Linked DNA regions of Homo sapiens: region 1 is linked to region 2. Evidence: fine-mapped expression QTL. A gene starts in region 2. The other region holds a variant in brackets. All regions are shown on one strand. Distances are from middle to middle. Region 1 holds the start of ATXN1L (ataxin 1 like). Region 2 holds the start of ZNF821 (zinc finger protein 821).

Region 1 (15,346 bases), 33 kb before region 2:
TGAACAGAGTTTGAAGAAACTGAAAGTCTCCATTTCGGTGGCCAAAACCGCAATTACTTTTGCACCAACCTAATACTTTAAAACAAACAACAACAAAAACACAGTTGTTATTCAAACATAAATTCAACTGGCGCTCACTTTTGTCTTCACTTAAGTTAATCAGATGTTCATGTTACTATGAAGTTGACCAGTTAATTTGTAATGAATAATTAGTTAATTTGTAATGAATAATATTTCACTGAGTAGTCAAGCCCTCTTTCCACTAAACCAAGCTGCTTCTCACTGTACTAAACCCCGGGCTCTCTCTAAACTTTCAGGTGTTCCACTCCTTGTCACCTTCCCCTAGATCCTGAGTGGGGTTCACTCTTAGCTCCCTCGGGGGCCACTTCTCAACACTTACAGAGCTCCTATTGACCTGGCACGGTGGCTCACGCCTGTAATCCCAGCACTTTGGCAGGCCGAGGTGTGGGGATCACCTGAGGTCGGGAGTTCGAGACCAGCCTGACCAGCAAGGAGAAACCCTGTCTCTACTAAAAATACAAAAAATTAGCCAGGTGTGGTGGCGCATGCCTGTAATCCCAGCTACTCGGGAGGCTGAGATAGGAGAATTGCTTGAACCTGGCAGGCGGAGGTTGGGTGAGCCGAGATCGTGCCATTGCACTCTAGCCTGGGCAACAAGAGCGAAACTGTCTCCAAAAAAAAGAAAGAAAAGAAAAAAAGAAGACTTCCTATCTCCACCTGGGTCCCCAAGAGGTAAGAGGTATCTCCTTTTCTCCTGAGCCTAGGTCACCTCGGGGTCCCCCGAAGTTCCCCAGAAGGGGCTGCACAAGTCAGGACAAGAAGTCCAGGAAATGGGGGGTCGCCGATGACCACGCCCCGGGGCTCTGTTTGGGAACCCCCAAAATTTACTGAGGTGGAAAGATTGCGGGGTCATTGTGGGGTCAGGCTGAGGGGGCCGGGCCCAGCCCTATTCACGTGACCCGGTCCCAGGGAGAGGAGTTTGTTCACCCACCAGAGGGAACGCCCGACGCGAAGGCAGTGTGGCACCCTCCCTTCCCGGGGAGTCCTGGGCGTTGCTCTCCCACCCCGGCCGTGACGCAATCTCTCCGCGCCGGGGGCGGGACGAGCTTGACGCCATCTCCGGGCGCCCGGCTGTGGGGGGCGCTGGGTGTGGGGCGGCTCCGGGGCCGGGGATGGCGGCGGCCGCGGTTGCGGCGGCTCCGGGACGAGTGAGTGGATCCTGGGAAGCGCTGTGAAATGGGCTGGTGAGTGTCCCTGGAAGTGGTGGCCGCCGGGGCCAGGCAGGCCTGGGGTCGGTGCTCCGGAGGAAGTGGCCCTCAGGAGCCCGTTGCTCCGGCGGGCCGGGGCCCATGAACCGTGGACAGACGGAGGGGAGAGGCCGCACCTAGACCCCCTCGCGCTTCTCTCTGGCCTGTCCTGGAAGGTGGCCTCAGGCCCCGGCGCCCCGGAGGCTGTGTGCCTGCGAGCCAAGGTGTCCGAGTCTGTGGGGCGGGAAGGGCCCCCAAACAAGGAAGCGTCGCCTGCAGGGCCTCGCCCCTGCCCCCTTGGTGAAGGGTGGACCCCCTACTCTCTAAACGCAGAATTCCCAATTTCGAGCCCTACCCTTGTTGGATCAAGGATTGCGGGACCACTGGGAGCCATAACCGTAGTCTCTGACAAGCTTCTCCCTTTCTGTCGGGCGCACCTCTCGCCCGCAGAGAATTTGGGTCTCCAGCTGGGTTCAGCCCCTTGATTCCGACCCAAGCGTGATGAGGAGCTTGGTTCCGGGCTCTGCTAGCAGCGTTGGCAACTCTCCTGAACAGCCTGTTAGCTCGGTTGGGGTCACAAGCTGCGTTTTCCCTTTGAGATGCTCAGTGAGGTTCTCGAGAGGCGGAGGTTTCGGATTCTTAAGTGTGTTTTGCGTTGTGGGAACCTGGCGCACAGGCTTGGCTCTTTGTTTTCCTTTCTGCAGACCTTTTGCCTCTTTCGGTCCCTTTACTAGCCTGTGTTTGCTAACTTCTCGGTGACCTGGAGGCAGGTTTTCTTTAAAGTTTTCGTTACAGAAAGCAAGGATCATTTTGGGATTGAAGTGTGACCCCAGTTTCTGTTGGGAATGAAGAAGAAAGCAAGCTGCTTTTCAGTTATTAAAGCTGCTGGTGGAGAAAAGAGTCATTATTTATGCCACTGTGTAATAATATGTGTTTGTGGAATTAGGAATTTGTTTTCCCACTGTGTTTTCCTATCCTTCCACCTTTTGTGTACACCTGCACCTTGCCAATCTTAAGAGAGAAATGTTGCATTCGGTTTGGGTTGAGGCTTAGAGTGTTCTATAGGACTTGGACAGGATAGTCAGTTTCTCAGAGCACTCACTCATCTGTACTGCCTTCTCTGTTTTCAGAGGTTAAGGCTCCATTCTTTCTCGCTTTGCGTTTCTGGCAAGTGTAGATTCACATAGTGATGGTTTAGTGGTAGTTTTGTTTCACCAGTGTTAGCCAGCTGAGGACCAAGGCAATATTTTCAGTTTCTTTCATACCTGATTCAGCACTTGGTATACTGTCACTCAGAAAATTTTACATACACACACACATATGCTCATTTTTTTTTAACCCTGAAAATCTCTTAATAAGTCTTCTCCTTGAGTGACTCCCCCCTGACCTCTTTTTCTGCCCCAGAAACATAAATAATTGTTCTTTTTCATCTACTGCTGCTTTTTTTCATTTAAATAACTCCACATTTATGTTTTCATAGGCCCAGAATAAAGGGGAAATCCATAGAGTTGATTTTTCCTGCTTCCCATTGTTCATATGGGAACAGTGTTAAAGCTTCCATTTTTATTTGTGCGTTTATCTGAAATTTGGATTGGAGCAAATTTAACCTTTGGGGAACAGGCACAGGTAGATGTTAGGGAAATGATGTTACGGAAAACCAATGAAATTTGATACATGGAAATTTTTTTTCAGGGATGTCTTCTTACAAGTTGGAGCATTAGAGGTGTTTTTCTCTCTGTTCAACTGCCTGGGCACTCTGGGTAAATGTACTGTTTACCTGTGGAGAAGAAGATGAGGCAAGGACGTGTATACTCTAATGCTTTGGAATTACCTTTCATGGTGACCCTGGGGAGAATTAGAGGTCAGGCAGCCGCTTACTCCATTCCTGTTTCTATCTTCTAGGCTCCCGAGCCAGCCGGGAGGACACTTACTACAGCTGCTCAGAAGCACCACTGGAAACTCAGGTAATACCGGCACTTTGAATTCCTTGTTTCAGGAAAATATCTGGGATGTCACAGTGGAAAAACAGAACAGAATGTAATATAGAAAGCTCTTTTCAGATCCAAAGAACTGGAACCTGGTTGGAAGAAATAGGCAGCAAAGTTCATGTGCACTGAAGTGTTCAGACCAAAAAGTTGCTTTATAACAATGGACAAAAGCATTTGTGAAAGGTGACAATAAGAGAAAAGGGAAAGAGAACTTTCTTATGAATCATACAGATACGGGGAAAAAAACAGGCATGTTTAGAGGAATGGAACCAGAATTTCATGGAGTGGTGCCTGGAGCAGACCTACAGTGGAGAAGGAGCTATTGGTAAAAGAAAGCACAAAGAAAAAAGAAAGGGAATGAATAGAGAAGGCAAATTGAAGGTGATCATTGAGAAGAAGCCTTTTGAGACTAGGGAACCGGAAGTGTACGTAAGGTCAGAAGAATTTAGAATTTTGTTGTTCTTTGGTGAAGAGGAGAAACAAGTTGACAGCAAACTAGTTTAATCACTTTCACTATATAGAGGCTGAGTTAAAATGTATTATTTCATGGGTCAAAGATGTTAATTTTCATAACCTGGTTAGGGAGCAAAGTCTTAAAAAAAAAAACAAAACACGAGCAGACCTGAGGGTTTTGGCACCTAGGTCCTTGAGGTACTGATGAGATGAGGCAAAGGAGGAAGAGAGTTTTTAGCCAGGCTTGGGATAGCAGTAGGTGAGATCATAACCCAAATTAGGCTACAGAAAGGAAGCAAGGATGAGGTCATATGTTCAGGAAAGAAGGTGGCACATTCATGTTTGGTAGCAAAAGGAGAAACTTAAGAAAAAGAGCCAGCAGGAGGCTGGGCGCTGTGGCTCACACCCGTAATCCCAGCACTTTGGGAGGCTGAGGTGGGCGGATCACCCAAGGGCAGGCGTTCGAGACTAGCCTGGCCAACATGGTGAAACCCCATCTCTACTAAAAATACAAAGTTAGCCAGGCGTGGTGGTGCATGCCTGTAGTCCCAGCTGCTTGGGAGGCTGAGGCAGGAGAATTGCTTGAACCCGGGAGGCGAGGTTGCGGTGAGCTGAGATTGCACCATGTACTGTGGCCAGGGCAACAAGAGCAAAACTCCATGTGTTTTAAAAAAAAAAAAAAAAAAAAAAAAAAGCAAAAGAGCCAGCAGGAAAGACCATGTGTTCAAAGCCCCCTTTGGGAAGAAGGCAGAAAAGAGACAAGGTGCTTATGAGACACATGACTAACCGTGAAGCTGTTGGTCTCCCTGGGCTTGTGGAGCCCACAGGTTATTTGTGCATTGGTGAATGCGTGTCCCTGTAGCTCTTTGTGCCTTGTGATTTCCCCGACTGTTTCTCTCATGTCCCAGGCTGGATGAGTTGGGGGTAGCCTCCTTGTCTGCCCCTTTCTCTTTCCTCCTTATTTTCTAACAGTCCCCTTTGTTACATCTTCCTCCATGGCACAGTTCTTTCTATTTCCTTTGTCTTGGCTCATCCCTAGGTTACTTTTCTTTGCCTCTGATTTGTTCCCTAATAGATGTGGGCGCCCCAGCCAGAAGCAGAGAGGGGTACAGGGAAGCTACAGAGAAGCCCCTTCTGATGCCCCAGGGAGCAAGTCGACTCCTTCCAGGCTCCAGGAACACCACAAAGCAATATGAAACCTGTTCATGAAAGGAGTCAGGAATGCCTTCCACCAAAGAAACGAGACCTCCCCGTGACCAGCGAGGATATGGGGAGAACTACCAGCTGCTCCACTAACCACACACCCTCCAGTGATGCTTCTGAATGGTCCCGAGGGGTTGTGGTGGCTGGGCAGAGCCAGGCAGGAGCCAGAGTCAGCCTGGGGGGTGATGGAGCTGAGGCCATCACCGGTCTGACAGTGGACCAGTATGGCATGCTGTATAAGGTGGCTGTGCCGCCTGCCACCTTTTCACCAACTGGACTCCCATCTGTGGTGAATATGAGTCCCTTGCCCCCAACGTTTAATGTAGCGTCTTCACTAATTCAACATCCAGGCATCCACTATCCTCCACTCCACTATGCTCAGCTCCCATCCACCTCGCTGCAGTTCATTGGGTCTCCTTATAGCCTTCCCTATGCTGTGCCACCTAATTTCCTACCGAGTCCCCTCCTATCTCCTTCTGCCAACCTTGCCACCTCTCACCTTCCACACTTTGTGCCATATGCCTCACTTCTGGCTGAAGGAGCCACTCCTCCCCCACAGGCTCCCTCCCCGGCCCACTCATTTAACAAAGCTCCCTCTGCCACCTCCCCATCTGGGCAATTGCCACATCATTCAAGTACTCAGCCGCTGGACCTTGCTCCAGGTCGGATGCCCATTTATTATCAGATGTCCAGGCTACCTGCTGGGTATACTTTGCATGAAACCCCTCCAGCAGGTGCCAGCCCAGTTCTTACCCCTCAGGAGAGCCAGTCTGCTCTGGAAGCAGCTGCTGCAAATGGAGGACAGAGACCACGAGAGCGAAATTTAGTAAGACGGGAAAGTGAAGCCCTTGACTCCCCCAACAGCAAGGGTGAAGGCCAGGGACTGGTGCCAGTGGTAGAATGTGTGGTGGATGGACAGTTGTTTTCAGGTTCTCAGACTCCACGGGTAGAGGTAGCAGCACCAGCACACCGGGGGACCCCGGACACTGACCTTGAGGTCCAGCGGGTGGTTGGCGCTTTAGCTTCTCAGGACTATCGTGTGGTGGCAGCTCAGAGGAAGGAGGAACCCAGCCCCCTCAACCTATCCCATCATACCCCCGACCATCAGGGTGAGGGGCGAGGGTCAGCCAGGAACCCTGCAGAGCTGGCAGAGAAAAGTCAGGCCCGTGGGTTCTACCCTCAGTCCCATCAGGAACCAGTAAAACATAGACCTTTACCCAAAGCAATGGTTGTAGCCAATGGCAACCTGGTGCCCACTGGAACTGACTCAGGCCTGCTGCCTGTGGGCTCGGAGATCCTGGTAGCATCAAGTCTGGACGTGCAGGCCAGAGCCACCTTCCCAGACAAGGAGCCAACGCCGCCCCCCATTACCTCCTCTCACTTGCCTTCCCATTTCATGAAAGGCGCCATCATCCAGCTGGCTACGGGAGAGCTGAAGCGGGTGGAGGACCTCCAGACCCAGGATTTTGTGCGCAGTGCCGAAGTGAGCGGGGGGCTGAAGATTGACTCTAGCACGGTCGTGGACATTCAGGAGAGCCAATGGCCTGGATTTGTCATGCTGCATTTTGTGGTTGGTGAGCAGCAGAGCAAAGTGAGCATCGAAGTGCCCCCCGAGCACCCCTTCTTTGTATATGGCCAGGGTTGGTCCTCTTGCAGCCCTGGGCGGACGACACAACTCTTCTCTCTGCCCTGCCATCGGCTACAGGTGGGAGATGTCTGCATCTCTATCAGTTTACAGAGCTTGAACAGTAACTCAGTTTCTCAGGCCAGCTGTGCTCCCCCAAGCCAGCTGGGTCCCCCCCGAGAAAGGCCTGAGAGGACGGTCTTGGGATCCAGAGAGCTATGTGACAGTGAGGGGAAGAGCCAGCCGGCAGGAGAGGGCTCCCGTGTGGTAGAGCCTTCCCAGCCTGAGTCCGGTGCTCAGGCCTGCTGGCCAGCCCCGAGCTTCCAAAGATACAGCATGCAAGGGGAGGAGGCACGGGCTGCGCTGCTCCGTCCCTCTTTCATTCCACAGGAGGTAAAGCTGTCCATTGAAGGGCGTTCCAATGCGGGAAAATGAACCTCTTCCCCAGACCAGGACTGGGGCTTTACCCCAGAGCCTCGCCTCGCCGCCGTGAGCAGGCAGAGGATTTGCACACGCCGAGCAGGGAATGGCTTTCTTGGCAGTGAGATTTGGGGGAAAGGGGAGGCATGAAGTCAGCCTCCCAAGGCAGGATCTGTTGTTCATTACCCCATGGCATCCTTTCAGGACAACCCCAGAGGGTGTTGTGATGGGGAGCAGCAGGCCTGGGGCAAGGAAGGAAGGGGGTGCACACAGGAGAAGAAACATTCCAAAATCAGGGCCTCCCTGTTCTTTCCTCCCCATCCCTAGCTCCTGCAAGAGAAAGTCCAGGCTTTGGGAGCAGATGGCAGAGGGAGGGAGTAAAGAAAGAGCCAAAAATGATGATCCACAGCTTATAGTAGCAGTTAAACTGTCAGAAGTTTTTTTTCTTTTTTGTGGTAGAAGGGCAGGAGGCCCCAAGGTTGGAAATAAGAGGGTTCCCACCCAGAACCCTTCTTGTGAGAGATGCGCACTTTAAAGGGTGATTTTGTTCCAGATGTCTATGGCTGGGTGTGTGGGGGAGGAGCACTCTCATCTGCAGGACTCTGCTTGATCCTCTGCTTCATAGCCCTTCCCCATCTCTCCTCACCATTCTGCCTACAAGGCTTCTAGCAGCACGGGGGCCCGGAGGGAGAGCCCCTTCAGGGTTCAGAGTGAAGTACTACCTTGCCAGGGACTCAGTCAGGGGACTTTGGGAGAAAGACTTGATAGCCAGGCTGACTGGGTTCTAGGCAGGCCCTCTGGAAAGGTAGCTCACCTAACAAAGCTCCTCCATCTCAGCATGCCAGACCCACTTTGAAATCTCACAGAATCTTGCTGGTAATGGTGACTTTAGAACTAGTAGACCCTTTTTCCCAGGCACTGACCCCCCACCTTTGTCTGTGTTGTGCCCAAGTGCCTGCGCCACCCCCACCCTCCTGCTGCGCTGACCGCTGCATGGTGTCGTGACCTGGGCCTCATTTGTAGCTGCACTGCCTTTCCTTGTCTGCAAAGTTGGTTTTGTCCACTCTGACCAAGACCTCTAGTTTTTGGTGGGTAGGGGGTCTCTCTGGTTTCCCCTTCAGCTATAATCTCTATTTTTAAAATCTCAAAATCATGTCCCCTCCACTTCCACTGCCAAACAGCTTGGTGAAGAAACAAGAAGGGAACTATGCCCTGGGCCAGGGCGAATGCGTGGCTGGGCAGTGCCCATCATGGCATTTTCACATGTCCCATATGCCCCTCCTGTCTTATTCCACTGCTTCTCCCAGCATTCTGGTGCCTCCAAGCCATCCCCTCCCACCACCAGCTCTAAGATTCTAGGATAGTCTTGATAACATTTCAGTACCTGAATAGATGTCATTTTGTGTTGGTATATTCCTCTGCAAAAAGTATTTTCAATCTTGGTTGCATTGGCACCCCCCCTACCCCCCACCAATGTCTTAATCCCACATTTTCTTCACAACTTTTAGCATCAGCTCAGACCGTGGGGTTCCACTGGGTATTGGGAATTAGGCTCCCCCACTAGCTTTCAGGTGGGTAAGTTTTTTTGTTTGTTTTTTGGGGGTCTTTAGACTCTTGAAGGCAACTCAGGGTATTGTCCACGCAGCTCTCTGGTTAGACTTCTCCCAGGCTATGATCCTGGC[A/G]TGTCCTTTATAAGGTATACTTGGATTGGCCGAGACCTGGCCTGGCATCAGGAGTCCAAACCTCTGAGGTCTGATCTCTGCTCTGTCAAGGACTTTCGGCAAGTCTCGTGACCTCTGGCTCTTTCACTTCCTCCCCACCTGCCAAATGGGGATAAATAATCTTACCTACCTCCTGGGGGGAGGGGAAGTTCTGAGAATGGAGTCATTCTTAGTGTTCAGGTGCTAAAGGTTGTTCTCCTGGGGGAACAGAGTGACTGAAACTGGCTTGTTTGCTACAAGCCCTACCCTCCACTCTTTCATTCCTTGAAAGCAGTTTGCCTGGTCAGTCAGCTTTTGGGGGTCCATCAAAGGAGGTTGCTGACCTGACCGTGAGTGCTTCAGTATCTGGTTTGTGTCAGAACCAGACGCCAACTTTGTACTGCATTTGGGATCATATCTTTCCCCTTCTCTGTCCCCCATTCTCTGAATGCTGCTTTCTCTGGCTTGTTTCCTACAGTGGGGGCCTGTGGGGTTGAGTCTTGAGGAATCCCCTCAAATGAGAAGGCCTTGGGAGAAGGCCTCATCTCTGGCTGTTTCATGAGCAACTCATTCCTAGAGTTCATTGTTTGCATGGGTTTCTCACAAGCGTCCTTCCTCATAGGAAGGCTCATCAACTGAATTTAGTGACATGTACACAGTAGATGCTCAAGCAGTGTCTGCAAGGACACAAGCTGAGCTTTCTCCTTATGGGGCAAACCTATGTCTAACCAGATACAGACCAATTAGTTTAGATCAAATCACCTTCCACTTGGGCTACTTGTGACTTTCCAACCTGGTAACTTCCACTGAATTCTGGAAAGAGAAATTCTTGAGGACCCTGGCAAGTTGGGCCCTGACCTTTCTGTTGCTGTCTCTTGCTGGTGAAGCAATACCAGCAGTTCCTGTAATACCACAATATCGTTCCATGCATATATAACATATTAATACTTGATTTTGCTGAGCTGCAAAGGTATCTGTCATAAAATATGGTCCCCAGGAAAAGAATCTCTGTGCTCTAAATCTCGGTCAGAGCTGTGGCCTCCCCCTTGCCTTTAACCTCTAGTTTAGTCTTTTCCTCCAGGCATGAAAAATATGACTAACCTGTGGTGTGTCCATTCTTCCTTATAGGAATTTCCTGAGTTTGCAGGAGACATGAGAGCAGTTTTTAGCGAGTATTTTAGTGGGAAGTTGCCAACTTTTTAAGAATGAGCAGTTGACAAGGGCCAGAGCCTGTCCCTTGTCAGCAGTAGGACATTTCCAGCTCTTAGGAATAGAAAGGAGGACTGCTGACTGTCTGGCGCTGTATAAAAATGTGTATACCAATTTGGGAATAGGGGAACCCAGTCATGGATGGATAATAAGCCAAGTCTTGAATCATTCCTATCAAGATTAGTATACATGAGGAAGAGGTGGCATGGGGGGAAGGGGCTCTGGGAGTTCAGAGCTGAGTACTTGTACCTGAGGGAGGGCCCCCAGCCAATCTGGGCTGGTCCTTCTATATTCTTGGTCCCAGTTGGTCATAACACCAAGGGCTTTGCCCTGCGCTGCTTTGCCACTGCTGCTGTCCGCTCACTGTCCTGCCTGCTGTCCTCTACAGCTCCCTATCCTTCCATGTCTTTGGCCATGTAGATTAAGTGTAGGCGTCCGGTTCATTCTTACCTGTGTTAGGCCATGTTATTTTATAGCGAAGTCATGTTCGATAGGGATGGTATGAAATGCTGCTGGTGGGCTGGTAAATCCAAAGGGATAAGGCTTCAGTGCTGTTGGGAGCCCTCTGGCTCCAAATGTCTGACTATCTTGAGGGAGAAACAAGCAGGTTTCTACTAGTGGTGTCTTCTGTTGTATTAACTTCTTTCCTTTGTGGTATCTTGTATCCTGTTTTAAAAACTAAATGAAGGGAACCACATTAGGGCCCATGCCAGCATCCCAGTGAAGTTCGTCCAGCTCCAGTTAGGTGGATTCTGGAGTTCGGAGAGGGTTTAAAGTTTGGCTGAAATAGCACCTCAAGTGGGGTTTAGTTTTATTTTTACCTGCGGGCATCATGGGCGATTTAGGGGGAAGCACAGGATGGTGGTGTGGTTTAAACCTGCAGCAAGCAGGCATGTTGAAGAGTTGAGTGATCACGCTGGAGATGAAGGGTTGGACATGGATTGACTGGGAAAAGGCCTGGGTCCATTGGAGTAAAGATAACCTAGTCGATTGAATTGGCCATGGGAAGTTAGGTCACAGTCTTATAAACAAAGTAAATAGGACAGAGACTAAGTTTTAGGGAGACATCTTGGCCTCCTAGGCTAAGTTTACTAAACCACACTGAAGCTATAGTACCTTCCAGATGGGCAAAAGTGTACACTACAGTTGAGGAGCTGAACCTTATTAGGTTGGATGTCGATCAGGAACCTGTTTGCCCTTTGCTGGGAAGCCTTCACTCTCCAGCTTTCCTGGGGTAGGGAAGGTCTCCCACATTATGCAATAATAAAATAAGCATCTGGGTCTTTGCAGCTGTCAGTTGCTCTTTCAACTCTAGGATCCATCTTTGGACCAGAAGCCTGGTCTGTGCCTAGGATGACACTGGCCCCAGAGATGCTAGAGTCGACTGCACTCTCTCCTTAGCTGCAGACCATGCACAGTGCCTGGGGCGGAAGGAGGAGAGGTGTTGCGGTTTGCCCTGCTGCCTCCCCAGCAGGAACAATAGTCATAAATGCACTTTTCACACTAAAGGTTTCTTTATTAGTTCTCCAGTTAAACCTAGATCCCTCCCTGGTAGATTGCGAACTCAAAGTTTTGTGATCCCAAAGCCATTCCACTGCAAATGCCCAGCAGTGAAGATGGCCTCAAATTGGGTTCTTGCCTGCAGTGTGTGTGGCAGCAGCCCATGTGCCTTTACCTGTTGTCAAACTTGCAAGCATTTATTTGTCTTTATGACTGTCATGGGGACTGAGGTTCTTCAGAGAAAGAGTGTGAGCTGATGACACAGTGGTTTTACACCCACCCCCTGGGCAGGGAGTTTGCACGTAGTTGTGAGCTGTGAGTGGTTAGTGCATTGCTGGTATTGCTGAAGGCAGGGTTGATCCCTCACTTGACTGATACTTGCATTCAAGAGAATCTAGATTGTGTTGGGGGAGGGACTGACTGTACTCATGGCTAACTTAAAGTATTAAAATAAGGCTGTCCCCTACAACCTTCTTAGTCACACAGGATCCCTGTAGCCAAAACAGTATATGATCCAGCTGCAGAGAGCAGACTGCTCTCAGCTTGCACAGCACCTTAGGCGAGGGAAGAATATACGGATAGGGAATGGGGTGGAGAAAGGATGGGAATGTTGTCATCCAGGTGGCTTTAGGGTCCTAAGGAGTGGAGAAGGATGGCACTGGGGAGGTCTGGATGGATCTGTGTAGGAGTTCCCTGTAGATAAATTACTGATCCCCCATCTACTATCCCCAGTATGTAATGGCTGAATTAATATGTAATCAACTGCATTGTATCTAAAGCCTTAGAACTAGTCAGGTGCTCCCTCCACCCAATACCATTTCTTACCCTCTAATCCTACCTGATCTTTAACAAAGCATTAATAATTCTAAGGATAATCTCTATTTTGTTGTGCTTTTTTGTAACTGTTTTAAATAAATCAATTTGTACTGTATATTTGTACTTTTGTGAGATCCTTTTTGCTGTTTTACCATTTTAAGTCTCTGTACTTGGCTACACACAGATTGTATTTTTATTGTTAATGCTCTTCTTATGGATACCTGCATTTAACTTGTGGACTATGTAAACACAATATCTATCAATATCTATATATCTATATATCTATCTATATAAACTACTAGCTTTTCCTTTTGGTGTTTGCGCCTTCTTCCTATCCCAGCCTTAGATGGTGGCCATGGGGTGGGGGATAGAAACCTTTGTGGGAGCAGTTGTAATGGAACACAAATGGTGGCTTTATTTGTGCGGTGAGCTCAAGGGAGATGGCATGAGCTTGTCCTCAAGCATGGTCTTTCCCCTCTGTTGGTGTGGATTTCAGAGACCCGGAAGTCTACCTGAACACTTAGATTCTAGTGGAATCACAAGGATCTGTAGGTGCCTTCGCTGCTGGCCTTCTCCCCAATTCTTTACTCAGGAATACTGCCAGAAATTGCTGGAATAAGTCAGCCCCAATCATAGCTACTGCCTAAAATTTAGAAAGCTTGCCACTAGTAATGGCATTTATGGAACACTTATTATGGGCTACAAAATATCCTAAGTGCTTTGTATGTACGGACAAGCTTTTTTTGCTAGTATTATTTCCATTTTGTGGATGGGGAAGCCAAGACATAGAGGTTAAGTAACCTCCCCAAAGTTACACAGCTAGTGTGGCAGGGCACTTCTGAACCCAGAGGTGCAACTCTTGAGTTTGTATGAATTCAGAGTTTCTTGTGAAGATTGAGATCATCTATGTAAAGCGCTTAGAATCATCTGTGGCACATGGTGAGGACTCAGTCATTTTAAAGCATCCCAAGTAGGACTCCAGTATGGAGCTCTGGGAGAAAGGCATTTGGGTCAATTAAGTAAATTAAACAGTTTTTGTTTGTTTTTTTTTGTTGTTGTTTTTTTTTTTTTAGATAGAGTCTCACTGTGTTGACAGGCTGGAGTGCAGTGGCACAATCTCAGCTCACTGCAACTTCCACCTCCCGGGTTCAAGTGATTCTCGTCTTCGGCCTCCCGAGTAGCTGGGATTGATTACAAGCACGCCAACTAAGTATTTTCTTTTAAATGTATTTTTCAAAACAAATATTTTAGCCTGCTTGGTGAAAGTACCTTAGTTTGTTAGCTGGGTGTGGTGGTGCACACCTATAGTCCCAGCTACTTGGGAGGCTGAGGCAGGGGGATCACTTGAGTCCAGGAGTTAGAGGTTATGGTGAGCTATGATCTTGTCACTGTACTCCAGCCTAGGTGACAGAGTGATATCCTTTCTCAAAAAAGCAAACTCCAGGCAGGGTTCTACGTAGCTCGCGCCTGTAATCCCAGCACTTTGGGAGGCCAAGGCAGGGGATCACCTGAGGTCAGGAGTTCAAGACCAGCCTGGCCAACATGGCGAAACCCTGTCTCTACTAAAAATACAAAAAGTAGCCGGGTGTGGTGGCACGTGTCTGTAACACCAGCTACTCGGGAGGCTGAGGCAGAATTGCTTGAACTCGGGAGGCAGGGGTTGCAGTGAGCCAAGATCACGTCATTACACTCCAGCCTGGGCAACAGAGCGAGACTCCGTCTCAAAAAACAAACAAAAAACAAAAAACAAAACCCCTAGTTTGGCGGGGGTCAGTTGACACTGTTAAACAGCCTTGGACCTATGGAGGTCAGAGAGGAATCCAAGTTTCCCTGTTAAGATATTGGAAGAAGTCCGCATTCCTGGCATAGTTATTTTTCTGGCTACAATTTAACTAGGGCACTTCCTTCTGGACCTCAAGATCTATAATTATCTAAACTGAACACAACCTTTGGTGCAGGCTAGGAAGGTTCTGTGCCTGTTCTGTACCATCACAGAAACTTTTTAGAAATGACCTCAGCTCTTGTCTCCTCCATGGTTTGGCAGTCATACAACCTGCCAGAGTAATCATTTTGCCCTAGCCTTAACCTGAGCTCTCTTACCACCTTAATTCTGGATTTTCTTCAGTGAGCTTATTTTCCTTCCTTGCCTCTGGTGAACAAATAAAACACAAATAAAATGCAAACATGAGTTTCTTGGTGCTGTGCACCTTAATATTGCAGCTATTTCTATGAGCCTATTCCTAGATGCAGCTGACTACTGTCTAGAATTGTAAATGTTCGACAATATTGCTGGGAAAAGTTGCACACCTAGTTGAAGGTATTGCATAGTCTTTAGAAAACAGCAGTTATGAGAAGAGACTTCTTCTGAGTTTGGAAAAGGTAAGCTAGGTTTAAACAGCCCTTGGGACCACAGGTATCTTCATTATGGTTGTGGGAATAATCATCACAGTCAACATCGGTTCTTTCTTCGGTGTCATGCTAATTCCTCGGCAACTTGTAAAGGCCCAAATAAGGACCTCTGCTTGGACAGCCTAAGCTGAGGAGCATCCTCCCTAAGAAAACGGCAAGCCACCAGAAGCCACTGTCTGAAAATTTCCACCCAGGTTTCTCCTAGATCACTTCATTTGCTAGAATGACATTGAGAGAAAAGCAAGAAAGGGGCAGTAAAGATAAAATTAATTTATTTGACTTCACAACTTCATGGGCCACACAGGGGCCCCACAGTCCTAGAAGCACAGCCTGTGGCAGTGGGCTGGGGAGGCCAGTTCTCTGGACTGCCTGCTCCCTTGTCCAGAGCTGCCTTGAGCCAGGTCCCTCCTGACCCCATCATCCTGTTCCCATATGCAAGGGCTGCTCAGGTCCACCTGCAATAAACCCAGGCCTGCCTCTGGCAGCAAGGACAGGGCCTCGTGGGTGGCAGCAGCACTGGTCCTCGTGGCTGTGGGTGTGGGTGGGTGGGTAGGTAGGTGGGAAGGAGGGCAGGCAGGAGGGTGTGGTTCAGTGCAGAGAGCTGCTGTTCTGCTCTTCAAAGGCCATCTTGCCCAGAAGCTGGCTGTCCAACTCCACCCCACTTACAGGCAGCTGGAAGAAGTTCATTTCAGCTGCTAAGGCTGCCATGGCAGAAGGGTCCTGGCCAAACTGAGCTCGCAACATCATGTCCATTTT
Region 2 (15,346 bases):
ATTATATAAAAAAATAAAATATATATAAATATATATGTATATATATTTTATATATATATACACACATATATAGGTTTTTTGTTTTTTACAAACTTTTCATCTGTTATACCTCTGAATTCTCTTCAAATGTTGCTGCACTTTACTCAAACAGTTCATAATAATAGGGAACTATTTGTCTTTTTTTTTTTTTTTTTGATGGAGTCTATGTTTGCCCAGGCTGGAGTCAGTGACACGATCTTGGCTCACTGCAACCTCCACCTCCCAGGTTCAAGTGATTCTCCTGCCTCAGCCTCCCAAGTAGAGTAGCTGGGATTATAGGTGCCTGCCACCATGCCTGGTTAATTTTTTTTGTATTTTTAGTGGAGATGAGTTTTTTGCCACGTTGGCCAGACTGGTCTCCAACTCCTTACCCCAGGTGATATGGCCCACCTCGGCCTCCCAAAGTGCTGGGATTACAGGTGCAAGCCACCGCGCCCGGCCACTATTTGTCTTTTTAACGAACATTTGGGTGGGAACGATTATCTTCCCAGATAATAGGAAAATGGCTAATTATCTCAAATCTGTGTAGATATTAATGTCAATTTAAGAAGGCACTTTTTGAACACCTTCTATGAGTAGTGCTAGAAGTAAAGAGGATACATAAGGAAATACATATGGCACATAGTCTCTGCCTTCTAGAAGTTTACTATGCAATTACTGAAATAAAATATGCAACAGGTGCGGTGGCTCATGCCTGTAATCCCAGCACTTTGGGAGCCCGAGGTGGCCAGATCACCTGAGGTCAGGAGTTCAAGGCCAGCCTCGCCAACATGGTGAAACCCTGTCTCTACTAAAAATACAAAAAAATTAGCTGGGCATGGTGGCGAGCACCTTAATCCCAGCTACTCGGCAGGTTGCAGCAGGAGAATTGCTTGAAGCCAGGAGGCCGATGTTGCAGAGATCACACTGCTACACTCCAGCCTGGGTGACAGAGCGAGACTCTGTCTCAAAAAAAAAAAAAAAAGCAAAGAAAAACATGCATGTGACACTGTTGAAAACAACACAAGGTAATAGTGTATACTTGGCCTTCTGGTTTCTAGCCTCTCCCTCTTGTGATCCATCCCACAAATTGCTTCATAGTACCAAAACGCTGTATTCTAAATGTCACTCCCCTCTCCCTGCTTAAAAACCTTCAGTAGTTCCCTACGGACTATAGAATGAACTTTGAACTTGGCCTGGCATTCAGCCTTCCACGTGTAGAGTTAAGCATCTCTAACCTCACATCTTCTGACTTTTGAACAAATGAGACCTCTGCTTCATATAAAGTCTCCTTGTCCTCTGAACATGTGGATTCCCGCTTCTGTCTTTGCTCACTTCACTTTCCCTACCTGATGTTCCCTCTCCCTGCCTCTTGTTTTTTAATTTTTTTTTTCAAATCCATTTTCTACCCTCTAAGGCCCAGTTCAGGCGCATGGTCTAGAGGCTTTTCCATTAAGCATTCCCCTTGCTACTTCAGTCCACTGAGCTCTTTTAACTTCCTTCCTCCGAACTTCTCTAGTACATACAGTCTGCAGCATCTGTTTGGCAATTAGCATATACTATCATTCATATTTATATATCTGAGGTTACAATACGGTCTTATAGATCTTATATTGGTTTAGAGCCCTGACATCTAGCACAAGGATCTGCAGAGAGTAGGTATCCTATAACTGTTTGTTAATGTGATATTAAAGATATATCAAGTGTACATACCCCTAAGATAGGTTTCCAACACCTCCCCCAGCAACCAGACACACTTTAAATCCACCATTTCCAACATTTTTAACCCTTTTTCTTTCTTTCTTTTTTTCTCTTCTGCTCAGCAAACTGTGTTTTACATTTAAACTTTTCTTCTTCACAAATTAGCGTGAGCTTCTCCCCTAAATTCAGGTTACTCTTCCATTCCACCCCTTAGCATTCCCAGGTTCCAGAAGACAAAGCCCGATACTCACAGTGAACTTTATTTGGATTTGTCTGTTTCCGACGGGACATGTTTCCCTGATGCAAGAGCTCTGGTCTTTCCCAGTTTCACGACTGGATATGTTACTACCTCCTTGCAAGATGCTAACCTGCAATAAAAAAGGTTATTGTTAGCACATGTCATTTTCCCCAGCAGTTACACAAAATTTAAAGATAAAATGTCCTTAAAAAACAGCTCCTGAGCATATAAAACTCACCAGTTATAAATAATTGAACTAATGAAAGAAAGAAAGAAATGAATAAATCTCTAGCCTAACGTCAAGGTCCCAGAAAGTTTAAGAGGGGACTCCCTCAGAGGACTTAGAGAATTATACTCTAAATCCATCTTTGGAATCCAGAATACTGTTAAGTGATCATGATCAAGGTCACAGGATAAAAGAGGAAGTAAAACTCAGGCATCCAGGGTTAGAAGTACTGTGGGCTCAAGGGGATAACTCCGATGAATTGCAAAAGGAAGCAAAAGGAAGCCAAAGAGGGTGGCAGCTCACATGTCACATGCCCACTGGAAGTCAAGCCCTGCAGTCTACACCAGCGGATTTTTCATGATGTTATCTTGCCTAGAGGTAGCAAAGGCATCACATCCCTGCGAGACAGAAAATGTCTCAAATAGGCATCTGTAAATGAGAACAGCATGGGAAATAAAGCCTCTATCTGGTGATACAGGCGCAATGCTATGCTGCACTGTGAATGACATGGCACTAAGCAAATCAAACTTCTAATGTTGAAGATGGGCTCTCACCAGAAGAGACAGATGCCATCCACATTGATGAGTACTAATTCAACACCCCAGTGTGGAATACCACCTGGCCCTCCTCACACATTCCAGAGAGGTGGTCAAAGTTAATAACTTTAGAGGCTCTTCTCAATCTAGCCTCTGGGTAGCAAAGAGAACAGTGGGAGGAATAAAGAGAAAAGTTCCCCAAACGAAAAATGCTGCCAAGACATGCATCTGCTCCCCACCCCATATAGGAGGGGATATATACGTAAGCCTGAAGGTTCCTGATTAACTACAGAAAGAGTGCCCCAGCCTTAAGCATTGTTAGAGAATCTGAGATGGATTAGTATTGATAGCTGTGTCATTTTCTTAGAAAGAGTGAATAAAGACATAGAATAAAAAGGGATTGTCTTTCCTACCAAAGACAGGAATATGGATCTGGTCACACTCTTAAGTTTTCTTTCAGTTCCTGCCTTCTTGAGTTATACTCACATTGAATAAGCAAACATAAAATCATAGTTTATTGCCTTAAGAGGAGTTATGGGAGACTACTGCTAGCTATATTTTGTACTCCAGTTAATGAAGACTCACCTCCTGTTATGCCAACTAACTCCTCTATGTAGCTAGAAGGACCTCAAACCTATAATCAGATCCTGCCTCCCCTTACCAAAAGAATAAAGAAACCGCAAATGGCAAAGACAGGCCTCCACAGGAAGTGGCAAAGGAAGCAGCTTTCAGGCAGTCTTCTAGCATATCTGCATATCAAACACAGTTCTTTTTCAGACCTTTAATTAAAAACAAAACAAAACAAAACTCTAAATGTATACAATAAAAATCAATTTAAACTATTTAGAGGGCAATATACTGAGTGCTGATAGTGTATGTTCTCTAAGTTTTGTGTATGTCATTTTTTTCTAATCAAGTAGTTGTTTTATTCACGGAAGCAGTGAATGAATATCACACTTTGGATTTCCTATATGTGTGTGGAATCACCAAGTGGAAAGGTAATGAAATGCAGGCTCTATTAATATTTTTAAAAATATGGCCAGGCACCGTGGCTCACGCCTGTAATCCCAACACTTTGGGAGGCCAAGGCAGGCAGATCACTTGAGGCCAGGAGTTTGAGACCAGCCTGGCCAATATGGGGAAACCTCTAATAAAAATACAAAAATTAGCTGGGCATGGTGGTGCACACCTGTAAATTCCAGCTACTCGGGAAGCTGAGGCATGAGAATCGCTTGAACCTGGGGAGGGGAGGTTGCAGTGAGCTGGGATGGAGGCACTACACTGCAGCTTGGGCAACAGAGTGAGACTCCATCTCAAAAAAAGATAAAAAACTGCCATGGGCGGTGGCTCTCGCCTGTAATCCCAGCACTTTGGGAGGCTGAGGCGGGTGGATCACCTGAGGTCGGGAGTTTGAGAACAGCCTGGCCAACATGGTGAAACCCCGTCTGTACTAAAAATACAAAAACTAGCTGGGCGTGGTGATGCATGTCTGTAATCTCAGCTACTCAGGAGGTTGAGGCAGGGAATTGCTTGAACCCGGGAGGCGGAGGTTGCAGTGAGCCAAGAACGCACCACTGCACTCCAGCCTGGGCGACAGAACGAGACTCCGTCTCAAAAAAAAAAAAAAAAGATAAATAAAAATTTAAAAAAATAAAATATACTCCTCTAATGTGATAATCTATTGAGGCTAAATATATATATACTCTATTATAGAAGAAAAAACAGAATCTTGACTAATTTTTATATTTTCTCCCTTCAAGATCAGAAACTGAAACTGTAAGATAAAGGTAATAAAGTCCCTTCTGAAGGAAGGCCAAATAATTTGAACCAGACAACATTTCAATATTAAAGCTCCAAGTCAAAAGACAGAGATGAGTGTCTGCGTATTTAAATCAGCAATGCCCGCTGCATCTTATAATCCTCCTAGTGGCCAAATGGGGAACTGACCAGATGGTACCCAATGGGACTTCACACCTGAGTGATCAAGAGAAAAATAAGCAATTACAGTCCCCTCCCACACAACGAAACGAAAATAATAACAAAAACACCCACAAAAACAGGCCTGTGGGGTCATGGGCTGTTGAAAATCAATAAGTAAATAAATAAATGGCGCTGAAAGGACACTCTTGACCACAAAGCAAGATCTCAGAGGCCAGATGACTTGTTTTATAGGCAGTTAAAGCTAATAAAACCCAGAGACATACAGCCCTAAAGGTCACTCATTTTGTTTTACTTTTAACACTGCCTCAATTTCCAAGCCAAAACCTGAAACCAAACCAAACCAAAAATGTAAATAGATAGCTGCCTGAACATGGGCTGGGAAGACAGGTAAACGGTGAGATTCAGGTCTAAAGGGATTCCATTTTAAAAGGAAAGCAGTTCTGTCTGTCTTCAGAGCAAGGTTAAGAGTCCTCGGGAAGGTGCAACGTCTCCCCTGAACACTGTCTCTGCTCTCCCACAGGTATTAGGTTGCAGCGTCTAGGGCACACCACAGACTTTGGCAAGAAAAAAAACGAGTGAAATCTCAGCTTGATGAAAAGAGAGTGCGTTCCCACCTCCAGCTCTGGTGCAGTTCCCACGGAGCAAAGCAAACTCGACTGAATCCAAGTGATCTGTATCTGCCAAAAAGGAGAGGACAAGAAAGCTGGTCACTTAGCCGCCTGGCTGTTCACCTGACCCCTGGGGTTGGGTCTGGGGCGTGTCTAATCAGCCGAGATGGTCCCTCTGCTTCTTCAAGCATGAGCCCAGGTAAATTCCCAGGAATTACCAGACAAGAGCCTGACAAGAGCCGGAGGTCTTCCGAGGCGGCTCAGACAAACCCTTAGACAACACAATCTCCGAAATCTAAATTTAGAAGCTTTTCTGCGAGACCCAGACGCGGGGACTGATACCCCCCGGTCTGCACGCCCACGCCCATCCTCCCCTCCCCCAGCTCCACCCAAGGCTGTCAGACGCCGGGGCCGTCCCCGCCGGGGCCCGAGGAGGCGGGGTGCCCGCGGCCCGCGCAAAAGCCCCCCGGCCCCGCACCCCGCGCCCCGCGCCCGAGAGCGCCAAGGGGCAGCAGGAGGAGCGGCCGGGGAGGAATTGGGGTTGGAAGCGGGGAGGGTGAGCCCGGGCTGCCCCCCTAGGCCGGAGCTGGCCCCCGGCCCTCTCCCCAGTGCAGACAAAAGGACCAACAGCCGGCGGCCGCGAGGGGGCGAGGAGCCCGCATCCCCAGCCCGGACCCGGAGGGAGGGCAGGGGGTCTTTTTACCCGGCGCCTCGGCGCTGCGCTGCGCTCTGGGTCCCTGGGCCCCGCCTCCGGACAGACGGACCGCCGGACAATGGACCCGGGACCGCAGCCCAAGCCAGCCGGGCCGGGGCGCTCCGGGACTGGGCCCCGGCGAGCGGAAGGGGCTCCGGGCCGAGCCGAGCCGGTGGCGGGGAGCCGAGGGGCGGCGCTGCAGACGGACAAAGCCAACAGCAGACAGACAGACGGAGGGGGAAAAAGATGGCGACGCGGGCGGCGGGAGCGCGCGGCTCGCGCACCCGCAGCTAGTGAGGCGCGTGCACGAGCCTCCCTCTCCCCCTCCCCCGCGCCGGCCAGGTCCCCTTCCCCGCGGCCCGGCGCGCGCCTGGCGTTGTGGGCGGGGCCTGAGGAGAGGGGCTCTGGAGAGGAGGGGCTCCGGGGAGCGCCCAATCCCGGGCGCCCGAGAGGGGCTCGCCCGCGTTCCAGGGCTCCGGAACCCCCCGCCTCGCCCATTCCCGGGTCTTTCTCTGGCTGTCTCAGCCGCTCAGCTCCCCCAGACCTTCCTGGACGTGTAAACGCCACCCTACCCAGCCCCGATCCTGGTTTCTTACCCCACCATCGAGTTCAGCCACAAAACCCACAACCCCCAACCACAGCTCCGCCGCAGGCACCCCCTCTCCTTAGCCCGGATCCCCACCACCGTCACAAACCCTCTTCGCCTCATTCCCCCACGCTTCGCGGTGGCTTCGGCTCCCGAGGCTTTGAATGTGACCACGGGCCTTGGTGGGAGGGGCCAAGTTCAGCTGTCAGAACCTCAGAGCTGGGAAATCTTGAGATTTCTTTTGAGTATTTAATTTTCTGACATGATTCTCAACTGATAAAATAACATTGGCTGCAGACCCAGGGGCAGGGGAACTTGTGGCACTGTTGTCACTTGAGGGATGTTTGGGGGCAATGGAGAGCCGTTGGACCTTTTTTTTTTTTTTTTTTTTGAGACAGAGTCTCGCTCTGTCACCCAGGCTGCAATGCAATGGCGCGATCTTCGCTCACTGCAACCTGCGCCTCCCAGGTTCAAGCGATTCTCGTGCTTCAGCCTCCCGAGTAGCTGGGACTACAGGCGTGCACCACCACGCCCAGCTAATTTTTGTATTTTTAGTAGACGGGGTTTCACCATGTTGGCCAGGCTGGTCCCGAACTCCTGACCTCAGGTGATCCTCCCGCCTCGGCCTCTCAAAGTGCTGGGATTACAGGCGTAAGCCACTGTGCCCGGCCTGGTTGGACGCACTTCTAGTCAAACACCTCCTCCTGTCCACGTCCTTCTCTCTCCTAGTTCCTGTTGCCTTCTTTTCTTCCTCTCTTCTAGAATGCCTGAGCCTGCCCTGGCATCGCTTACCTGGAGAAGCAGGGAATGCAGAGGAAAGAAGATGAGATCTGGTATTAGAAGATCTGGCTTTGAGCCCCAGCTCTGCCACCCACCAGCCTGTTGACTTTGGGCAAGTCACTTCCCTGTTCTGAGCCTCTGCTTCCTAAGATGTCAAATGGATAATGATGCAATAATTCCTGGCCTTTACTCTCCGAGGGTTGTTGTGCCAGTTAAGTAAAACAAATGGCTAAAAGCATCATGCAAATGTTTTTCGTGATTACTGGCTGCACAAAGGCAGGGCTAACGAGGATGCTGTCATTTGCTGATAAAGTGACAAGTCCTGGTATTTGCATAGAACATTCTTGCAAATTGTCTTTCCCCTAAATCTTTTATGAGATGATCTCATTGTCTGCATCTTGTGTTCAATGTAATAGAATGATTACATTGAGGGATCTTGGTCCTTCACAATTCTGTGATAAATAGCTCATTCATCATTCACTCATTTATTTATTGTGATTAGGATACTTAGATAGCAATTATTGTTGTTTAACTTCAGTCAAGGAAACATTTTAATTTCATTTAAAAACTTAGTTTCCAAGTAGACAGAAAATGGAATATTATCATCCAACCCGCAAGTGTTTGTACTATTTTGTGTAAGAATACAACCTAGAATACACACTGGCTTTTATATTTAACAGTAATTCTTGATCAGTTTGGACTGAGGGATACAAGTATGGCTTTATTATGTCACTTTAAAGCTGACTTAGTTGACATTTTCAACAGAAAAGTAGCAAACAGGTAAAGTTTGCCTCCAGTGAAATTTCTTGGATGCATTATTATTATGTAATGTTGGGCAGCTTATTCCATCTCCTTGACTTCCAAATAAAATGAGATGATAATAATGCTATTCTTATGACTTCCCTGTGCTCTAAAAATTTCTCAGAGGTGTTGTGATTCAAGGTTACAACCAAATAATGAAAAAATTATTAAATACGTAATTAGTTTAAGTTAGGCATGGTGGCTGGCACCTATAGTCCCAGCTACTCAGGAGGCTGAGATGGTATGATGACTTGAGCCCAAGTGTTTGAGGCCAGCTTGGGCCACATAGTGAAACCCTTGTCTCTTTAAAAAAGAAGAATTAATTTATTTTTCCTCTGCTTTCACCTAAACTTGTTCTACATCTAGAAGACCTTTTAATTAACCATATATATTTTTTTAGCTTCACTTTTTTCTACTTTCCCAATCTACTCACAGTTATGTCATCATTTTGCCACTTCAACTATTTAACTTTCCACTTGAAATATCTTCCTAATCCATTTTATATTTGTTGGCTTCTACAATGACCTTGTTAGGGCTCTATATTCCAACAATAAAGGTAGGAGGATTTTAAGAACCTCATGTTACATTTTTTTAAATTAAGGTATAATTCACATACCATGAAACTCATGCTTTTAAAGTGTACAATTCAGTGGGTTTTGGTACATTCACAGGGTTGACAACATCACTAGTATCTAATTCCGGAATATTTTCATCACCCCAAAAAGAAATCCCATACCCAGTAGCAGTAACTCACCATTCTCCCTTCCTCCAGCTCCTGGCACCCACAAATCTACTTTCTGTCTGTGTGGATTTGCCTATTCTGGACATTTCATATAAATGTGATTGATTATACAGTATGGGACCTCTCGTGTCTGGCTTTTGTCACTTAATCTGGCTTTTGTCACTTAATAGGTTTTCAAGGTTCATTCATGTTGTAGCATATATCAGTACTTAATTCCTTTTTATGGCTGAATTATATTCTGTTGTATGGATATGCCACATTTTATTTATCCATTCATTAGTGGAACGATATTTGGCTTGGGCCTACTTTTTGGCTACTATGCATAATGCTACTATGAACATTTGTGTACAGTTTTTGTGTAAACATATGTCTTTACATTATGTATGGACATGGGTGCATACATATATCTAAGAGTGGAATTGCTTGGTCAAATGGTAACTCTATATTCAACCTTTTTTTTTTTTTTTTTTGAGACCGAGTCTTGCTCTGTCGCCCAGGCTGGAGTGCAGTGGCGCGATCTCGGCTCATTGCAAGCTCCACCTCCTGAGTTCACGCCATTCTCCTGCCTCAGCCTCCCAAGCAGCTGGGACTACAGGTGCCCGCCACCACGCCCGGCTAATTTTTTTTGTATTTTTAGTAGAGACGAGGTTTCACCGTGTTAGCCAGGATGGTCTTGATCTCCTGACCTCGTGATCCGCCCGCCTCGGCCTCCCAAAGTGCTGGGATTACAGGCGTGAGCCATCGCGCGCAGCCCTCTGTGTTCAACTTTTTGAGGAAGTGCTAAACTGTTTTCCTAAGTGGCTGCACCATTTTATATTCCTATCAGCAACATATGGTGTTTCCAATTTCTGCACAACCTGGTCAACATTTGTTATTGTTTGTCTTTGACATTAATGGCCACCCTAGTGGATATAAAGTCATATCTCATTGTGATTTTAATTTGCATTTCTCTAATGACTAAGGATGTTGAATATTTTTTCATGTGCTTATTATTGACCATTTGGAGAATGTCTATTCAAATCCTTTGCCTATTTTTAAATTGAGTTGTCTTTTTTTTTTTTTTTTTGGAATCAGGGTCTCACTCTGTTGCCCAGGCTGGAGTGCAGCACAGTGGTATGATCACAGCTCACTGCAGCATTGACCTCCCTGAGCTCAGGTGATCATCCCACCTCAGCCTCCCGAGTAGCTGGGACTACTGGCATGCCCTTACAGGCACACGCCACCACACCTGAATAATTTTTGTATTTTTTGTAGAGACGGGGTCTCACCATGTTGCTCAGGCTGGTCTGGAACACCTAGGCTCAAGCAATCTCCCCGCCTCAGCCTCCCAAAGTGCTGGGATTACAGGCATGAACCACTGCGCCTGGCCTAAAATTTATTTTTATTTATTTGGTATCCCAAATAAAAATAATATTTATTTTTATTTATTTGGTCACGGCACATAGTGTCCTTTGAAGCACAAAGTTTTTGATTTATATGAAGTCTAATTTATTTTTTCCTTCATTGCTTGTGGTTTGGATGCCATGTCTACGAAACTATCACCGCCTAGTCATGAAAATTTACACCTATGTTTTCTCTTAGGAGTTTTTTAGCTCCTACATTTAGGTCTTCACTCCATTTTGAGTTAGTTTTTGCATATGGTGTGAGGCCGGGGTGGGGGGCAATTTTATTCTTTTGCATGCAGTTATCCAGTTTTCTTAGCACCATTTGTTGTAAAGACTGTTCTTTCCCCCTTTGAATTGTCTTGGTATCCTTGTTGAGAATCAATTGGTTATAAATGCATGGGTTTATTTCTGGACTCTCAGTTCTATTCCATTGACCTATATGCCTATCCTTATGCCACTATCATACAGTCTTGATAAAAATCTGATATTTTAAAGGACAATGTTTAAACTTTTGTGTTTATATTTAGAATCTAGAGTTACAAGTTTTCATGGCTTTGAGTTCATTTAAGGAAAAATTAAGTTTTCTAGATGATTACAATGATGATAAATGTAAAAACCTGATTTGAAAATTTTTTGATCTTATATATGAACCCAAATCACAGTAATAACTGTGATTTAATGCATTTTATTTTCATGTATTGATAAACTCCATATACACAAATTGAAAGTAAAACAGGGCTGGAAATTATTATGGAAACATGGATATACAGGAAGTATATAATCGGGCCAAGCGAGGTGGCTCATGCCTTTGGGAGGCTGAGGTGAGAGAATCACTTGAGGCCAGGAGTTTGAGACCAGTCTGGGCAACATAGTGAGATCCTGTCTCTACAAAAATGTTTTTTAAAAATTAGCCAGGCATGGTGGCATGTACCTGTAGTCCAAGCTACTTAGGAGGATGAGATGGGAACCCAGCAGTTTGAGGCTGCAGGGAGCTGTGATAGTACCCTTGCACTTCAGCCTGATGACAGAGTGAAACCATGTCTTAAAATAAAAAATAAATAAATGAAAAGAAAATATATGATGTTCAGTGTCAAAGTCTGGGTTCAAGATCTGATCCTGGCATTTATAGCTGTTGACCTTAGATTGGTCACTTCATAGCTTTAAGCTTCACTTTCCTCCTATAAAAACTGACAATAGCCGGGTGCGGTGGCTCACACCTGTTGTAATCCCAGCACTTTGGGAGGCTGAGGTGCATGGATCACTTGAGATCAGGAGTTCAAGACCAGCCTGGCCAACATGGTGAAACTCTTTCTCTAATAAAAATACAAAAATTAGCCGGGTGTGGTGGTGCATGCCTGTAAATCCCAGCTACCTGGAAGGCTAAGGCAGGAAAGTCACTTGAACCTGGGAGGTGGAGGTTGCAGTGATCCAAGATTATGCCATTGCACTCCAGCCTAGGAGACAGAGTGAGACTCTGTCTCAAAAAACAAAACAAAAAACAAAACAACAACAAAAAAACAAAAACAAAAGAAAACCCGAAAAAACCTGACCTGATAATGCCAGACCGGGCAGCATGGCAAAACCCCATCTCTACCAAATAAATATAAGAAATTACCCAGGTATGGTGGCATGGCATGTGCCTATAGTCCCAGCTACTCAGGAGGCTGATGTGGGAGGATCATCTGGGCCCAAGATCATGGCTGCAGTGAGCCATGATTGCACCACTGCACTTCAGCCTGCACAACAGAGCGAGACCCTGTCTCAGGCAAAACAAAACAAAAACAAAAACAAAAAAATGATTTTTGACCTGCAGCTGCTTCACAGAAATGTCAGCCTGAAATTGAGATAATGTGTTTATAGGTGCTTTGTAAACTGTAAAATGCCACAAAGATAAGTTAATATTTGTATATAGCCCTAATTAGTGACATTAATTAGTTTTCTGAAGACTTGTTTCATGGGTTCTTTAACAAGTGATCTTGATTTTTTTTTCCTAGGCTTTAGGAAGATGTCCAGAGCAGTTCCTATATCCTTGTATATTCTTTTTTTTATTGTTTTTCTTCTTTTTCTTTTTTTGTTTCATTGTATATTCTTTAGTCTAAATGTTAATAGTTAAAACAAAGGAAATAACTCTATGCCCATCATCTTTCCCTTCTTTCTCTTACACAATGTGTAGTACTTTTATGCAGAAGTCAGCAAACTTTTTTTTTTTTTTCAGACAGGATCTCACTCTGTCTCCCAGCCTGGAGTACAGTGGCACAATCTCGGCTCACTGCAGCCTCCTCTGCCTCCCAGGTTCAAGTGATTCTCCTGCCTCAGCCTCCTGAGTAGCTGGGATTACAGTGCACCACCACACCTGGCTAATTTTTGTATTTTTAATAGAGACAGATTTTCGCAATGTTGACCAGGCTGGTCTCGAACTCCTGACCTCAAGTGATCCCCCTGCCTTACCCTCCCAAAATGCTGGGATTACAGGTGAGCAAACTTTTTCTATAAAGGACCACATAGTAAATATTTTGGGATTTGTGGGCAACATAAAGTCACTGTCACACATTCATGCTCCTCCCCTTCCTGCTTTTTTTTTTTTTTTTTTTTTTTTTGAGAGGGAGTCTCACTCTGTCACCCAGGCTGGAGTGCAGTGGCGCATTCTCGGCTCACTGCAAGCTCCGCCTCCCAGGTTCACGCCATTCTCCTGCCTCAGCCTCCCAAGCAGCTGGGACTACAGGCGCCCGCACCACGCCCAGCTAATTTTTTTTTGTATTTTTTAGCGGAGACGGGGTTTCACTGTGTTAGCCAGGATGGTCTCCATCTCCTAACCTCGTGATCCGCCCGCCTCACCCTCCCAAAGTGCTGGGATTACAGGCGTGAGCCACCGCGCCCAGCCCCTTCCTGCTTTTTAACCTTTTAACAATATAAAAATCATTCTTAGCTGGAGAGGCTGTACACAAAACAGGTTGGCTGATTAAGGCTTGCAGGCCTGTTATAGATTCTTATTTTATTGGGCTCAAACACTGTGTCTGGTTTTAGTTACAGCTACTAGTTATAGTCATTTACACAAAAAAAGTACCTGGTTAGTTACCAAAGAAATGTAATGTGTTAACATTTGTCCCAACAGCAAAACTGGATTTTCAAGGGAAACAGTGTTTATTTTTCAGTATGTTTAGCTTCTGAATGAAACTTGTCTGTTCAGCCAGGGACAGAGATAATATTGTGTTTTTTAATTCCCTCAGAGATACTGTTTCGAATAATTGGCTTGTTGGGGTACAATTCACAGTTGATATATTACAGGATCTAAATAGACAGGTAGGTTTTGTTAAAGCCCAGGACACAGGTGATGATTGCTAAATCTTTACAACTCCCGAGTAGAAAGCAATTTTTCTAAACGAATAAATGAATCATGTCGGCTGGGCATGGTGGCGCACGCCTGTAATCCTAGCACCCTGGGAGGCCGAAGCCGGCAGATCACTTGAGGTCAGGAGTTCGAAACCAGCCTGGCCAACATGGTGAAACCTCATCACTACTAAAAATACAAAAAATCGGCCAAGCGTGGTGTCCCACGCCTTTAATCCCAGCACTTTAGGAGGCTGAGGCGGGCGGATCATGAGGTCAGGGGTTTGAGACTAGCCTGACCAACACGGTGAAACCTCATCTTTACTAAAAATAGCCAGGCGTGGTGGTGCAGGCCTGTAGCAGCTACTCAGGAGGCTGAGGCAGCAGAATCGCTTGAACCCGGGAGGCGGAGGTTGGAGTGAGCTGAGATTGAGCCACTGCACTCCACCCTGGGCGACAGAGAGAGACTCCGTCTCAAAAAAAAAAAAAAAAAAAAAAAAAATTAGCTGGACTTGGTGGTGGATGCCTGTAATCCCAGCTACTTGGTACTTGTAAGGCTGCGACAGGAGAATCGCTTTAACCCGGGAGGTGGAGGTTGCAGTGAGCTGAGATCGCGCCATTGCACTCCAGCCTGGGCAACAAGAGAGAAACTCCGTCTCAAAAAAAAAAAAAAAAAAAAAAAAAAAAAAAAGAATCATGTCACCTTTAGCGCTTTTAGTTAGGTGGGGCTCAATGATACTTTTAGCTTATCTTTTTTCAGTCTGTGAGACAGAGTCTCCCTCTGTCACCCAGGCTGGAGGGCAGGGGCGCGATCTCGGCTCACTGCAAGCTCCGCCTCCCGGGTTCACACCATTCTCCTGCCTCAGCCTCCCCAGTAGCTGGGACTACAGGCGCCCGCCACCAAGCCCGGCTAATTTTTTTTGTATTTTTAGTAGAGACGGGGTTTCACCGTGTTAGCCAGGATGGTCTCTATCTCCTGACCTCGTGATCCACCCGCCTCGGCCTCCCAAAGTGCTGCGATTACAGGTGTGAACCACCGTGCCCGGCCAAAATTTTTTTTTTTTTTTTTTGAGAGGGAGTCTTCCTCTGTCGCTCAAGCTGGAATGCAGGGGCGTTATCTCGGCTCATTGCAACCTCCGCCTCCCCGGTTCAAGCGATTCTCTTGCCTCTGCCTCCGAATTAGCTGAAATTATAGGCACGAGCCACAAACCAGGCTTTTTTTTTTTTTTTGAGACAGAGTCTTGCTCTGTCACCCAGGCTGGAGTGCAATGGCATGATCTCGGGTCACTGCAACCTCCGCCTCCCGGTTCAAGCGATTCTTCTGCCTCAGCCTCCAAGTAGCTGGGATTACAGGCGCCCGCCACCATGCCCTGCTAATTTTTTATATTTTTAGTAGACACAGGGTTTCACCATGTTGGCCTGGTCGGTTTCGAACTCCTAACCTCAAGTGATCCACCCACCTCGGCCTCTCAAAGTGCTGGGATTACAGGCATGAGCCACCCTGCCTGGCTTTTTTTTTTTTTTTTTTGAGATATAGTCTGGCTCTGTCACCCAGGCTGGAGTGCAGCGGCGCCATCTCGGCTCACTGCAATCTCTATCTCCTGGCGCCATTCTCCTGCCTCAGCCTCCCGAGTAGCTGGGACTACAGGCGCCCGCCACAACCCCCAGCTAATTTTTTTTTGTATTGTTGGTAGAGACGGGGTTTCACCGTGTTAGCCAGGGTGGTCTTCATCTCCTGACCTCGTGATCCTCCCGCCTCGGCC

The links. PIP is the estimated chance that this variant, and not a neighbour inherited with it, causes the effect.
Region 1: its variant is the best candidate, but not a certain one, in a credible set for the expression of ZNF821 in whole blood (INTERVAL, PIP 0.76).

What each region holds. Positions count from the first base shown.
Region 1 is chr16:71,844,840-71,860,185 of GRCh38, forward strand. It overlaps ATXN1L (ataxin 1 like), which reads left to right and starts at 1,137. Exons shown (of 3, transcript NM_001137675.4): 1 at 1,137-1,265; 2 at 3,171-3,232; 3 at 4,785-12,489. The coding sequence starts at 4,902. The coding sequence ends at 6,971. ZNF821 (zinc finger protein 821) reads right to left here. Exons shown (of 8, transcript NM_001201552.2): 8 at 14,846-15,346. The coding sequence ends at 15,179. RefSeq lists enhancers at 209-981, 715-764, 5,861-6,640, 8,460-8,599, 11,100-11,149 and 2 more and a silencer at 1,025-1,334. The variant A/G (reference allele first, on the strand shown) is at 8,639.
Region 2 is chr16:71,877,937-71,893,282 of GRCh38, forward strand. It overlaps ZNF821 (zinc finger protein 821), which reads right to left and starts at 6,246. Exons shown (of 8, transcript NM_001201552.2): 1 at 5,972-6,246; 2 at 5,275-5,337; 3 at 1,971-2,087. The coding sequence starts at 2,010. RefSeq lists enhancers at 5,072-5,271, 7,112-7,612 and silencers at 5,632-5,751, 5,772-6,531.